Linked DNA regions of Homo sapiens. The protein of the gene in region 1 purifies or fractionates together with the protein of each later gene. This does not show direct contact. Each region holds a gene or a part of one and is shown in the gene's direction. Other genes may lie near its edges.

What was found.
Region 2: the proteins of DNAJB8 (region 1) and MLF1 purify together in Homo sapiens (affinity purification with mass spectrometry; 4 studies listed by BioGRID and IntAct, with this or other methods). This does not show direct contact.

What each region holds. Positions count from the first base shown.
Region 1 is NC_000003.12:128,463,886-128,471,680, reverse strand, and holds the start of DNAJB8 (dnaJ homolog subfamily B member 8), read left to right. Parts: upstream 1-4,790; 5' UTR 4,791-5,067; intron 5,068-6,244; 5' UTR 6,245-6,405; intron 6,406-7,567; exon of another isoform or gene 7,568-7,570; 5' UTR 7,571-7,795. UniProt on the Homo sapiens protein: Efficient suppressor of aggregation and toxicity of disease-associated polyglutamine proteins.
Region 2 is NC_000003.12:158,588,185-158,595,208, forward strand, and holds part of MLF1 (myeloid leukemia factor 1), read left to right. Parts: intron 1-667; coding exon of another isoform or gene 668-740; intron 741-4,249; coding exon 4,250-4,397; intron 4,398-5,197; coding exon 5,198-5,242; intron 5,243-7,024. UniProt on the Homo sapiens protein: Involved in lineage commitment of primary hemopoietic progenitors by restricting erythroid formation and enhancing myeloid formation.

The sequences.
Region 1 (7,795 bases):
TGGGCTCTATTCCCACCATCCCTTCGGTCCCAGGTGTAGTCAACTACAGATGCCTGCTCTCTTTCCACTGAGCCACTGAGCCTGGTGCATGCTGTTCCCTTTGCATGGAACCACTCCCATGTTACAAGGCTCCTGCTTTATTAAGAAATAAATCACCAAACAGGTCACCTGTGTGTTTTAAATATTCACATTGAAGACATTAATGCCTTTGGTGCATCAAAAAGACATTGCATTATAATTGCGCTTGTCAAATGATAATTTCAGGGCTTAGAACAGAGTTCTCAACCTCGGTGCTGTTGACATTTGGGGCTGGATGATTCTTTGTGGTGGAGGCTGTCCTGTGCACTAGACAGGGATGTTCAGCAGCAGCCCTGCCTGGCCTCCACCCAGGAGATGCCAGTAGCAACTCCTCCAGTCATTGCCAAATGTCCCCTGGGGAGGGAGGACTGTCCCTGTTGAGAACCACTGATTTAGGAGATGAACTCCTCATGCCCCCAGGACAGGGTGGTCTGCAATGGGTACATGATCATAGCCATGTGATGAACACCTTCTTCCCACCTTGAAATGTTCCATGACTGAATGAACTACCTCCCTGGGGAAGGATGTCCAGTGTCGACATCCAAGACCCTTCATGTGTGTGAGGCCGACCCTGCTGGAACCTCCCTCTCCAAGCCCTGCCAAGGCGTCACCTCTTCTGACCAGCCTTCCCAGACGCCCCAGACAGTGTCACCTCTCCTTCCAGCGAGTGTTGCAGCTGCATTCGCACATTGGTGTGTGTCTGCTCCTTCCCCAGAGCCTGGGGTTGGGAGTTCCCTGCGTGGGAGGACAGGGGTGATGCTGCTGAATTCAACTGTTTCCAGCCCCCACTCAGACCAGTGCAGGGAAGAATTGTGAATCTGAATTGTTGGCCGCATAGGAGCCGCCCAGGCCCTTTGCTAGCAGACCTAGTAAGACCCAGATGTGCCCTGGACTCCAGGGAGCAGGCCTGGCTTGGGTGATGGGAGGGCCCAGGCTGAGAGAGGCACGAGGCAGCCAGACCTCCCGGTGAGGGACGGCAGGGCCCATGCTTTTGGAAACACAGCAGGGCTACAGGCCTCATGGAGGGCCTGTGTGCACATGTGTGACCATGTGTACAGGCGTGCTCACATGCATGGGGGCGTGGGTGCCTGAGCATACCTGTGGAAGTGTGGGGCACCCAATCTGACCTCCCTAAGAGCCCCAGCTTCCTGTAAGCCCCCGTCTTGCTTTGTTTTCTCTCACGGCATCTATGACACCTGCCATCATGTTAAATGTTCATGCATTATCAGTTTCTCCTATCTCCCCAACTGCATGTCAGCATCATAAGGGCAAGGCTTTGTCTGGTGCCTTCACTGACATATGGACCCCAGACCCAGGGGAGTGCCTGGTACACGGCACGTGTATGGACAACTGCTCAGGAAACGTGTGTGGGTGGCTGGGTGTGTGGGTGGCTGGGTGGCTGGGTGTGTGGGTGGCTGGGTGTGCAAATGGCTGGGTGTGTGGGTGGCTGGGTGGCTGGGTGTGCATGTGGCTGGGTGGGGGGGTGGCTGGGTGTGTGAATGGCTGGGTGTGTGGGTGGCTGGGTGGCTGGGTGTATGGGTGGCTGGGTGGCTGGGTGGCTGGGTGTATGGGTGGCTGGGTGGCTGGGTGGGTGGGTGGCTGGGTGGCTGGGTGTATGAGTGGCTGGGTGGCTGGCTGTGTGGGTGGCTGGGTGGGTGAGTGGCTGGCTGGGTGGGTGGGTGGCTGGGTGTGTGGGTGGCTGGGTGGGTGGGTGGCTAGGCATGTGGGTGGCTGGGTGGGTGAGTGGCTGGGTATGTGAGTGGCTGGGTGTGTGGGTAGCTGGGTATGTGTGTGGCTAGGTGGGTGGATTGATGGGTGTGTGTATGGGGAGATGGGTGGCTATCTGCTGGTACAGATGTGTGCATACGCATGCACGCCTTTACTCTGGAAGATACTTCAGGCTTTTTTGTTCTATACTGTTTCCAGAAAGACCCCGGAAATGCCACACCCCGGAAACTGCAGAGCCCCGTGGGTGAATGGAGAGGCTCTGGGGGTTGGATCCTCCTGGAGGCTTCGAGTAACTGAGGAACTCAGGGTAACAGCCCTGCCTAGGGTTGCTGTATGCCAGGGGGGCTGGGTGCTGGGACCCTGGAGGAGGGGAGCTGCCCTAACTGGCTGAAGCAACTTGGAACTCAGAGGGCCCCGCAAATGATGCCTTCACTCAGGCAGTAAACCCCTACTTGGGGCTAGATCTGAGCCTCCAGAGACCACATGAGCCACCACCAGGAAGGATGTACCTGGGTTGGGATGGCAGGGAAGGGATCTGGGCAACCCAGTGGGCACCTGTCATCACTGGCTTGGAGGACTGGGCAGGAAGGCTGCCTGAAGAGGTCTGAGAGCAGAGCTGAGATCGCCCTGGCACCACTGGGGAGGACGTGAGCTCACTGGCCCTTCTACGGTTGCGTAGCCCACCGCCTTCCCACCCCATGGGCCACCAATCTGCATGTAAGCCTGCCATGGGCCTGTCTGCCTACCATGGCTTCCACTGGCTCACCAGGCAGGCTGCCCTTTCATCTGTCTCTGCCCACCCATTATCGACACTGCCAGGATGCCAGCACACGCACACACAGCTCCTTCTCCATTCTGAGCTCCTCACAGTAACCCTGTGAGAGGGGACCATCATTACTTCCCTTTTACAGATGAGATGAGGACACTGGGGCACAGCCAGGTTATTGACTTCCCCAAGGACACATGGCTGGGGAGTGGCAGTGCTGGGGTTGGAACCCAGGCTGTGTCACCTGACAGGCTGAGCTCTTCCCCACTGTGGGATCTGCCCCTTGGCCCGTCTGTCTGTCCATCCGCCCATCCACTCTGTGACTGCCCACCGTTCAGCCCCTTCATTCGCCTGCCACTCTGTCCATCCAGCCGCCCGTCCATCCATCCATCGCTGTCGCCCATCCATCCTGGAGCTAATGCAGTTAGAGGACCAGGGGCCCTGAGGGGAGAGAAGGCCCCAAACTGCCCATCTGGCCGGGCCAGGGTGGCCGGGGGTGGGGTGGGCTGCCCAGGCCAGGCAGGCCTGCAGGGGGCTGGAGGGAATTAGCTGAGTGACTGCCAGGATCATCTAATTAGGAACTCTAGTGATAAGCAGATAGGATCGGGGGTGATTAGAATCCTTTTAAAAAGCCACTCCATTAATTACAGAGACAGAGAGGGGCCTCTGGCTGCTCCGAATACCAATTGGCTGCTTAATCGGCTCCATCAGCTCGCCCGGGGGAGACCTTCCTGGTACTGCTGTGTGACCTTCGGTGTGCCCTGCCCTCTCTGGGCCTCGCTTGGTCGCTGAAGGTCCTTCTCTCCCTGGCCATGGCTCGGGGTTGGCTTTAGGGTGGGCCTGAGATGAGGGACATGGGACATCTGAGGCCAGGAAGCCTAGGCTGGCTCCCCAGAGAGGGCAAATCCCCAAAAGCACCCACTGGTGAATGAGGACAGAGAGGCTTGAAGAGGGGAGGTGGCCTGACAGAATTGACGGTGGAGCGTGTGGGGCCTAAGTGTGCGCTCATGCCTGTGTGTCCCTGTCCCTCCAGCAGGCCCTATGGAGGCCTCAGAGCCCCTGATGCTCCCCACTGGCTCCCCAAAAACTGGCGTGGAAGGAGACTAGCCTGAACCCTTTGCAGAAGGGAAACTCCTCTGCACACTGCCCGGCTCCACGGTCCACAGCTCCCTTCATGGGGAGCTCCCCACAGGGGCCTCCATCTCAGGATGCCCTTGATGGTGAGGTGTGGGACCTGCTCCCAGGTGACACACCTGTTCCCGTAAGTCCTACCGAGTGGTCTGTTCTGTGTGCCCTAAGACAGCCCTGAATGGGCGGCAGTGAGGGGGTCTCCAGCCCTGTCTCCATCCTGGCTGACTCCCACAGACCCATCCCAGGAACAAGGGTTGGAGCAGGGCAGTGGCTGGAAGAAATTTCCCCTGGGAGTACAACGCAGACCAGAGCCAGGGTCTCCAACAAGGCAGGGAGGGCCAGGACGGGGAGGCGGCCACAGGATTCTTGGATGCCTCATCATACTAGGTCCTTTGTCTCTTAACATTGTTTTCACCACCCCTCCTCCACTGTCCTGATTCCATCGTCATGGAAACTTCAGGCTTCACCTTTACAATGTCAGGCCACCAACACCCTCAGCAGTGTCACCATCACCATCAACACCCCAGCGTCCCATCCCCATCTCCTCTACCACTGCCACCAGCCCCACTATCACTATCATCTCTGTCACCGTCACCACGGTGCTCTCCACCCGTGTCAGCATTGTGTCACCACCACATCACTGTCACCACACTTCCTCCACCTCCATCTCCACCCACCATCCCATCTGTGACATCACCTTATCAGCTCTGCCACCAGTATCAACCACTCACACCGCCTTTGCCATCACCACCGTCATTGCCCCCTCTACTACCACCACCATCACCACCACCGGGTCTGCCTCAGCCAGACCCACCACTGCCTCTAATTAGACTGCCACCATCATCACTGCCACCACCACTGCCCCTCCAATGCCTTCCTGATGTCACCATCTGCTTTCTCTCTGCTATCCTCACACCCAACTCCATCACAACCACCACCTTCATCTGAGCCGCCATCACCCTCACAGTACACAGCCCTCAAATGTGTACCAAGGAGGAGGACATTTACTACACGCTGCACCCTGAACAGTCTGGGACCAGCGGTCAGGGAACAAGGAATCGAGATGCTCACCTGCAGCTCCCAGGTGAGCGGCTCTCTAGAGCTTGCCTGGGAGCTGCTGAGGAGCTCACGGTATTCCAGGAAGCTCCCCATCCATGCCTCAGCCTGTGGCTCAGAAGCAGGGTCTTCGCAGAAGATTGCCCCGAGCTGTTGCAAAGCTCACCATTGTCACCTGCCTGCAACGGCCTCTCTTTTCCACTCTCCAAATCCCTTGTATTGGCAGGCTCTAGTCTGGAATTATACCGGTGATGGGATTCTGGAAAATCCCTCAGATTTCTCCAGGATGCAAGGAGACCATGGAAGAGGTTGGTGTAATGCCAAGTTAGCAACAGAAAATACAGAGCCCCACACCTCAGTGCCATCACCATCGCCATCGGCACTCACACCAGCATGTCCACCACTGTGTCCTTCTCACCCCTCGGCACCCCCCTCTACCATTGCCTCTTCCACAACCACCCTCACCACCATCCTCCATTAATAGCACAATTCCTGCCTCCTATCCCATCACCACCACGGGTGTCCCCGGCACCAGCAGCACCAACACTGCTCCCAGCAGAGCCATCGTTACCAGCCCCGCTGTCAGTCCCATCTTGAGCATCTGGCATATGTTGGAGAACTGCTCACTCCCTCTTCCCCATGGGAATCTCAGGCCTCTCTTCCTATTGCCCTGAGATTTGCAGAACCTTCCTGAAGGAAACATTCTTTGCCCCATGGATACTGGCCTTGACCATGGGATGCAGCAAGACTGCCACACATCATGGCCCAACAGAAGCTTTCAGAGGCAGCCCAAGTTCCTGCTGTCTCTGAGTGGCACTGTCATGAGAGAGGGGTGTGCAGGTCAGAGCTGATTCTCCAGCCTGGGACCCACAGTGAGAAGCTATGGGAGGTGGGGCCCTGGCAGCTGCCTGTAGGCACCAGTGAGTGAAGTGGGGGGAACTAGATGTTTGTCGTGAGCCACTGAGAGGTGGAAGCTGTCACTGTGGTATAGCCGAACAAGATACAACCTCTGCTACCTCCACCACCTTCACCTTCATCATCACCATTACTGTCACCACTGCCAACCACACCAATGGCTCACTAGGAGCCATTCCCATCACCTCCTCATCATACCTGCACCATCACTGCCAACCACAACAAAGGCTCGCTGTTACCATCTCCTCTGGCATGACCATCACCACCACCACTACCATCATCAATTACTCTCAAGCACAAGCCTTGCTGCTGTCACCACCAGCATCACCATCATCATGATCAACTCCACCATCACCCATAATTACTCTCCCCCTCACACCCACCATGACCATTACCTCCACATCAACACTGCTCCCATGGTCACCTCTACTATATAATGACACCTTATCCATCTCCATGGACACCCACCGTGCCTCTCCCCACCAGCAACACAGTCAACAGCAGTGCCTCTCCCACTGCCACCGCCATCATGGAGAACTGTGCAGGGCAAGCATCTTTCTCCCGCCCCAGGAACAAGCCTGCAAGGGACAGCAGGTGCTAACTGCTAACCGAGACATAGTGACAAAAATCCAGCCACAGAGATAAAGAATCAGGTTCATCTGTAGCTACATCCAGTGGAGAAGTTCTGCTCTTCAACTCCTCTGCTAAGCCACATGTGTCAGCAGGTGTAGGTGGGTGGATGCCCAGCATGGGGGTGCGAGTCGTGCTTTTGATAAGCTGCATGGAGGGACAGCGATGGTCACTGGAGGCTGGGTTTACAAAGTGTCTCTACAGTCTGTCTCCATTCCTCCTGGCATTTGGGATTGGTTAGAACACACACTGTCCCCTGCTAGGAGCCTGAAACCTAGCACCCATGAGCACTGAAAGAAAAGAGAGAGAGGGAGGATAATAGAAAGGGATGAAGACTAGAAAAAGGAAGAGGAGGAAGAAGGGAGGAATGAAGGAAGGAAGGAGGAAGGAAAGAAGCCAGGAGTGAAGAAGGGAGGGAAGGGAGAAGGGGGAAGGGGAGGGAGGAAGGAAAGAAAGAAGGAAGGAAGGAGAAAGGGAGGAAGGAAGGAAGGAAGGAAGGAGGAAATGAAGGAAGGAGGGGGAAGGGAGGGAGGGAGGAGGGAAGGAAGGCAGGGAACGGAAGGGAAGGGAAGGGAAAGAAGGAGGGAAGGAGGGAGGGAGGAAGGGAGGAAGGAAAGAAGGCAGGCAGGAAGGCTATCTTTAGTTAAGACTTGGTGACCCAAACATCTAGGCTCTTTATTGGTGTGGTTAGTAGGTGGTTTAGCATGGTTTTGATCTTAATTGGAGTGGGGTGAGGTGAAGGTAGGAACAGATATTAATCAGTATTGTGAATTGCTGTTTCTATATATGATCCAACACCAGAACAAGAATTAAAGGAATATAAATGCCTAAGAATATTTGGTTACCTCACTCACCTGATTCGTTTTCTAGGGCTGTTACAAATTATTACAAACTGGGTAGCTCAATACAAAAGAAATCTCTTCCCCCAGTTCTGGAGGCCAGAGGTCTGAAATCGAGGTGTTAGTGGGGCCGCACTCCCTCTGGAGGCTGCAGGGAGAACCCTCCTGGCCCCCAGCTTCCAGCTGCGTCAGTGTCCATCTCCTATACGGACATGTGTCACTGGATTTAGGGCCCACTCAGATAATCCAGGATGATCTCATCTCGACATCCTTAATTTAATTACATCCGAAAAGATCCTTTTTCCAAATAAGCTCACATTCAGAGGTTCCAAGGATTAGGATAGGAACATATCTTTTTGGGGGCCACCATTCAACCCACTACAGTCAGTAATCAATATTTATCATCAATTCCTATTTTTCTTACCAGAATTGAGTGGAACACTTCTTTGGATTTGCTGTCCGCTGCAGCCTTGGCCCTGGTTTCACATCCCCTCCCTCACTGACTCGCTGTGTGACCTTGAGCACTGTGTGTCTCTGAGCCTGGTTCATCCAAGAGTTTACCGACGGCCCTCGTGTGCCAGCCACTGTCCTAGACAGGGACAGACTTTCCCGCCTTTGTGGAGCTTACCCCGGAAGACCTGGCCAGATAATG
Region 2 (7,024 bases), about 30 Mb from region 1:
GTGGATTCTCCACCAGTCAAGACTTGAGATGACTAAAGCCTCAACTGATAACTTCATTGCAGCCTACAGAGAGGCCCTGAGTCAGAACTACCCACCTAAACTGCTCCTGATTCCTAATCAACAGAAATTGTGACATAACAAATGTTGTTTTAAGCTGCTAAGTTACAACAGCAATAGATAACTAATACATGTTATGTCAGAATAACACATTGATTGAGACCATCCTGGCTAACACGGTGAAACCCCGTCTCTACTAAGTACAAAAAATTAGCTGGGTGTGGTGGCTGGTGCCTGTAGTCCCAGCTACTCGGGGGGCTGAGGCAGGAGAATGGCGTGAACCCAGGAGGCGGAGCTTGCAGTGAGCCGAGATCGCGCCACTGCACTCCAGCCTGGGCAAGAGAGCGAGACTCCGTCTCAAAAAAAAAAAAAAAAAAAAAAAAGCAGAAAAAAACTGCCCTCATTCTAAGTCATCAGTTTTGTTGCTTTCATCTAAAGACAGGAAAATGAACTACAAATCTACAAAAAGTTTATACGTGTGTTTCTGCATCATAAAAAACAGATATTTATAGATATTCGCAAAATTTTGAGACCACATTCAGGATGGCCTCAATTAAGACATAAGCTTCTATGGCATAAACAAACCTCATTTGAGGATGTTGTTTCTCAGACATACAGGTGGTCTTACTCTGCAGCAGCTGAAACTGAAGCACAAGAAGCCCTTGGAACTATCATCAGGACATGTAAGTCCCATGTACTAAAATACTTGGGCCAGAGAAAACCAAGTATAGTTTAAATAGGAGTTTCCCCTCCCCTAAAATCCAAAGTCACTAAGGAGGAACTTCAAGACTGCAGGCATTGGTTGCAGTGGAGATTTTTCTCTGTGTAGCAAGCACCAAGGTGAGCAGAGCCTTTAATTAAGAATAGTTAGTAATTTTGCCAAGAAATGGTAGGGGGACCATCTGATATATAGGATGGTTCAAATTCCATAAACATTATTTATTTATTTATTTATTTTGAATTTTTGTATTTTTTTTTATTTTATTTTGAGACGGAGTCTCACCCTATTGCCTAGGCTGGAGTGCAATGGCATGATCTTGGCTCATCACAACCTCCACTTCCCGGGTTTAAGTGATTCTCCTGCCTCAGCCTCCAGAGTAGCTGGGATTACAGGCACCTACCACCACACCCAGCTAATTTTTGTACTTTTAGTAGAAACGGGGTTTCACCATGTTGGCCAGGCTCTTCTCAAGCTCTTGACTTCGTGATCCACCCACCTCGGCCTCCCAAAGTGCTGGGATTACAGGCATGAGCCACCGCGCCCAGCCCTCCATAAACATTTATAATGTATACTGTGTGTCAAGCACAGAGGTTGGTAATATGAATGAATAAAGATACAGTTCCTACTCTAGAAGAACTTATACTCTAAAAGAGGAGTGAGACTTTTGTATATTTTAAAATTAAAATTAAAAAACTTGTATTAGTTTCCTATTGCTTCTATAACAAATTACCACATATTTAGAGACTTAAAACAACAAATCATCTTATGGTGGAGATCAGAAGTCCAAAATGGGTTTCCCTGGGCTAAAATCAAGGTGTTGGCAGGGCTACATTCCTTCTGGAGTTTATGGGGGTGAATCTGTTTCCTTGTCTTTTCTAGCGTCTAGATACTGCTGTGTTCCTTGGCTTCTGGCCTCTTCCTCCATTTTTAAAGCCAGCAGTGTAGCATCTTCTGATTATGACACTACTATCTCCTTCTCATAAGGACCCTTGTGATTACATTGGGCCCACTGGGATAATCCAGGATAATCTTCCCATCTCAAAATCCTTATACACATTAGCAAAATGTGGTAAAAACTGAAGACCTAACAAAGATTCATGGTTGTGTGGCTGAATATATTCATGTTAAGAGAATGAAAAAGGCAAGTCCAAGACTGGGAAAAAATTTAAAACCTGTATCTGATAAAAGTCTGTGTCCAGAATATATAAAGAACTCTTATAACCTGATTTTTAAAAATGGGGGAAGTATTTGAAAAGACGGTTCTATCAAAGAACATACATGAATGACAAATAATACAAAATAAAACTACAATGAGATGTTATGACCCTACCACTCAAATGGCTACAGTTAAACATTGACTATCCTATATTTCACCAAGAATGCAGTGCAACTGGAACTCTCAGTTACAGTTTTCATAAAATTTACATACTCTTCTAATACAAGCCATCAGTCCTTGCTCTGAGGTGTTTACTTAAGTCAAATTATGTATACACAAAGACTAGTACATAAATATTCATAGTAGCTTTATTCATAATAGCCAAAAACTAAAAACAGTTTTGTGATTATGATACTGATATATGTATGAACTTAGCAATAAAACTGAATGAACTGAAATAGAGAACAACATGGATGAATCAAAGAAGCATTATGCTAAGGGAAAGAAGCTAGACACAAAAGATGACATACTATGTGATTCCATTATATGAAATCTGGAGAAGACCAAACTATAATGACAGAAAGCCTATTCATGGTAACTAGGGCTAGGAGCAGGTAATTATCTGCAAAGAGACGAGGAAGCTTTTTGGAATGATAGAAATGTTCTACATCTTAATTATGGTGGAGGTTATGACTGCACTTTTTAAAATTCATCAAACTGTACAACAAAATTGGTAAATTTCGTTGAATGTAAATTATGCCTAAACAAGGCTGAATGAAAACATCTGTCTATACATACAAGCACAAATCCAGTTAAGCAGTTTGCTAATCTTAAACTCACACTTGGAACAATTATGCTTTTTTTAACCTCCAAGGTAATGTGTGAATAAATCTGAGCTCTTTTGGAATAGGTTTATGTATACAAATACTATGAAATTCAGAGGAAAAGCTCTTTCTACTTGGACTTATGAGCAGAAGACAGAATTTTTGAGCTTCCTCCTTTGAGCTTCCTCCTTTGAGCTGGAGTTGCAAGGAAAATTTCTTTTTTTTTTTTTTTTTTGAGACAGAGTCTGGCTCTGTCACCCCGTCTGGAGTGCAATGGTGCAATCTTGGCTCACTGCAACTTCTGCCTCCCGGGTTCAAGCAATTCTCCTGCCTCAGCCTCCGGAGTAGCTGGGATTATAGGCGTACGTCACCACACCCGGCTAATTTTTGTATTTTTAGTAGAGATGGGGTTTTACCATGTTGGCCAGGCTGGTCTTGAACTCCCGACCTCAAGCAATCCACCTGACTCAGCCTCCCAAAGTGCGGGGATTACAGGCATGAGGCACCACGCCTGGCCAAGAAAAAATTTTAAAAACTTTCTAGCTTCTTTATGATGACATCAGAGGATTGGAATTAGAAGGGGGAAGGGTGACCTAAGAAGAATAACTGAAGTGGAGAATCTGAAAGGAGGCCAGACTATTGGAGAGGGAGTTCCACTGGGCTGCAGGAAAGCATAAGATTGCCTTGGTAAAGTGAGCTCCAATCATGGTGTACCTTAAGTTCTAGAACGAGGAATAAGGAATTGATTAGTGGGTCAGTAACTGTCCAACTGGAACAAAGTTGGGAAACCACTGTGATAAGGTAAAAAAAAAAAATTTAGGTTCTTTAATGAGACTTGTGATGAAAGGGTAAATATCAGATTATAGTGTTGGTATTTTTATGCAATATGGGATAAATAAAGATGTTTTTTTTATTATGCATTAAATGAATTATATTGGATAACAGTAACAGGTTTTCATTAATTTTATTTATAACTACAGATGCTTCTCAACTTAACGATAAGATTACATTCCAATGAACCCATCGCAAATTGAAAATATTATACATCAAAATGCATTTAATACACTTAACCTACCGAGTATCATCAGAACATACACATTAGTTTACAGTTGGGCAACATCATCTAACATAAAGCCTACTTTATTATAAAGTGTTGAATGTCTCATGTAATTTATTGAATACTATACTGAAAGTGAAAACCAGCATGGCTGTATGGATCATTGAAGTACTGTTTCTCCTGAATGTGGAGTGCTTTCATACCACAGTAAAGTCAAAAAACCTTAACTTAAACCATTGTAAGTAGGGAACCATCTAATAATGGATCTTTATGAGATAATTCTATTCTATTTATGAATAAAATAGAGTTCTCTTCTACTCTTCTTTTATCTAACAAACATATTAGCCCAAAATAATTATTTGTAATATTTACCTGCCTACTTACTATTTAAACTCCAACACTGAATCTTTCATGATTATGTATATTTTCAACAGTGAGTCCATTCTTGCACACCGAGAAAATATGCGACAGATGATAAGAAGTTTTTCTGAACCCTTTGGAAGAGACTTGCTCAGTATCTCTGATGGTAGAGGGAGAGCTCATAATCGTAGAGGACATAATGATGGTGAAGATTCTTTGACTGTAAGTTCTTTTTTTTAAGACAGTTAGTGAGAAGGCCCTGTAGGAATTTGAAGAAAAGTATTACAGAAGTATATATCTATAATGATAGGATATGACTAATATTCTTGTTCTAGAAATCACTATTATATAAAAGGGGGGACCTTTGGAAAGGTGAATCCTGAACAGTGACTTGTCAGCTATATGGAATTTCACTGTGCTACCAAAACTGTTAGGTCCATAGAAGCATATATTAGAAGCAAAACTTAAACCATTATTTTTTATATTTATGTATACATTTCTCACCTTATAACTTCCTCTGATATCTGAAATTAGAACAGGCAAGGAAATATCCTTTCTCTCCCATACTCATTGTTTTAATACTTGAAAATAGTATCAAAAGCTACAAAGGATTGTCTTTATTGGACCAGGAAACACTGATCTTCTATATGGTTACGTATGGACCTTCAAAGCTTAGATTAACCTTTGCTTGTATCTCAAAAGCCTTACAACTGAAATATATTTTCATATGTCTTGCCTTAGAGCAAAGCTAGAGGTTACAAACATACTCAACTAAAAATTAAAAAAAAAACAGGATATTTATATATTGTAACCATTTTCTTTTTTGCCTCTTTTATTTCTTTTGCTTTTTCAGCCTCATGAATGATAGTTCTAAGATAACAAGCCCTCAGGGGTTTCTATAAAGATGAATCTCAGCAATTGAAATGTAGCAATTTGAAATTCAGTAAACATTTAATTGGTAAATTGAGAAACTTCTATATAATAAATGTCATAATCAAATGAATTGGATATTATTTTTCCAGGCAACGAGTTGTTCTCTTGTGCCTTTTGGCGATTTTGGTGGTATGGTTCGTATCTTAAGACACAAATCATTTTAGCAATATTTTCTGACAAATATTTATTTTTCATTAACTCAAGCTGACTGAATTGGCATGCAGCCTCACTTCCATAATGGCTTTTTAATGTTTGTACTGAAAACCTCTGTTTCAAGTATCAGACTTACCTTAGAAAGTTTAGGCACATGTTTCCTGAAGTAAGTCATTTCAACATATATAAAATTCATCTTCAAAAATAAAAAGTAGATTTTATTGAATGAATATTTGCTTGATTTACAAAAGGGATCCTCATAGTTGTGTTTGAAAGTTGGGGACTTCCACATGCTTATGATTACTTTCCAAAAGGTTTTTTAAAAAGTACTAAACTGTAGATAGATAAGCACAACGTTTGGAAAAGCACAGATTAACTGCTTTCTCTAGGATTTTGTTGCCACCTTGCCCAGGCAGCTTTTTCTTGTCTGTTCTTAAGAATGGCCACTCTGCAACCAGCGTTTCTACCACCTGTTTCTTAGGGTTTTTGTGCTGTGTCTGTGATGCTAGCTTCCAACACACTAAAAGCATTCTGGGGAGTAGCAGAAAATAACATGAATTTGGAACATTTGTATCTACAGTCTCATGAAAACGGTTTTTTTTTAATTATTTTGTGCTACAATTGAATCATTTGTTTCCTTGAAGTTTGGCATACAGGTATAACATTTATCCCTCCTGACCAGAGTATTTAGTAAGACAAATAACAAAAAAAAGCAGTTATAACACAGAGTTATGAGTAAAATGATCAGGAAGTTCAGCATGCTATGGGAGCACAGATGGAAAAAAGCACCTTTTGAGGTGGGGTGGGTCAATCCAAGTAGACTTCTTGAACTTTAAGGATTAGTAGAAGTTAGCCAGAAAAGGAGGGAGGGGAAAGGAATACTGTTCAACAGAGAGGAAACAGCATGTGCAAAGACCTGCAGGCTAGGGAGCTAAAACATGTTTAGTATCACTTAGCCCTGGAGTATGAGTTGAACAGTAGATACTGATGAGGAAGAAGAGGTAACCAGAGACTTCTTTAGACCGTAGAAGGAGAGTAAACATCATCTTAAAAGCAGAGGAAGCAGTGATGACTTACGTCAAAGTGGTAATAGAGTCATATTCTTGAAATATTAGAAGAGACCATAGTGGAGGCAGGGAAGCCAGAAGGCTGTTGAAGCATTCTTGGTAAAGTATTAGTGATGGCTTACTTCTACTAGGTAATGTCTGTGGTGATAAAAATGAATTACCTCATTTGAGAGAGAGTTAAAAGGGCGAATGGATGGAACTTGGTGATTGACAGGGTTGAAGGAGCAGTAGAGAGGGAGAAGGGAAGTATCACACCCATTTTTCTGGCATGAAGAATAAGGTAGATGGGAATGCCACTGAGATAAGGCATTGATTCAGTACAGATACAGGAGTGAGGTGGTCAAAACAATCATTTTAGTTTTGGATGTTTGGCATTTGAGGCATCTGTGAGTTTTCCAGGTAGATTTATCTGGTAAACTGTTGGATATATGGATTTGAGCTGAGCTAGAGATAATTTATTCATTCATTCATTCCGCAAATATTTATTAAACCCTCTTAAGTGCCAGGAATTATTATATATGTATTGGGGATATTGTAGTAAATAGACAAAATCGCCCTGCCCTCAGAGATTATTTTTATAAAGTGGGAAGATAGACAATAAACAACAAAATAATTTCAGATAGTCACAGTACCCTGAAGATGAAACAGGGTAATGATACAGAGATGGGGGGAAGTGAAGGAGGGATTAGACAGGTG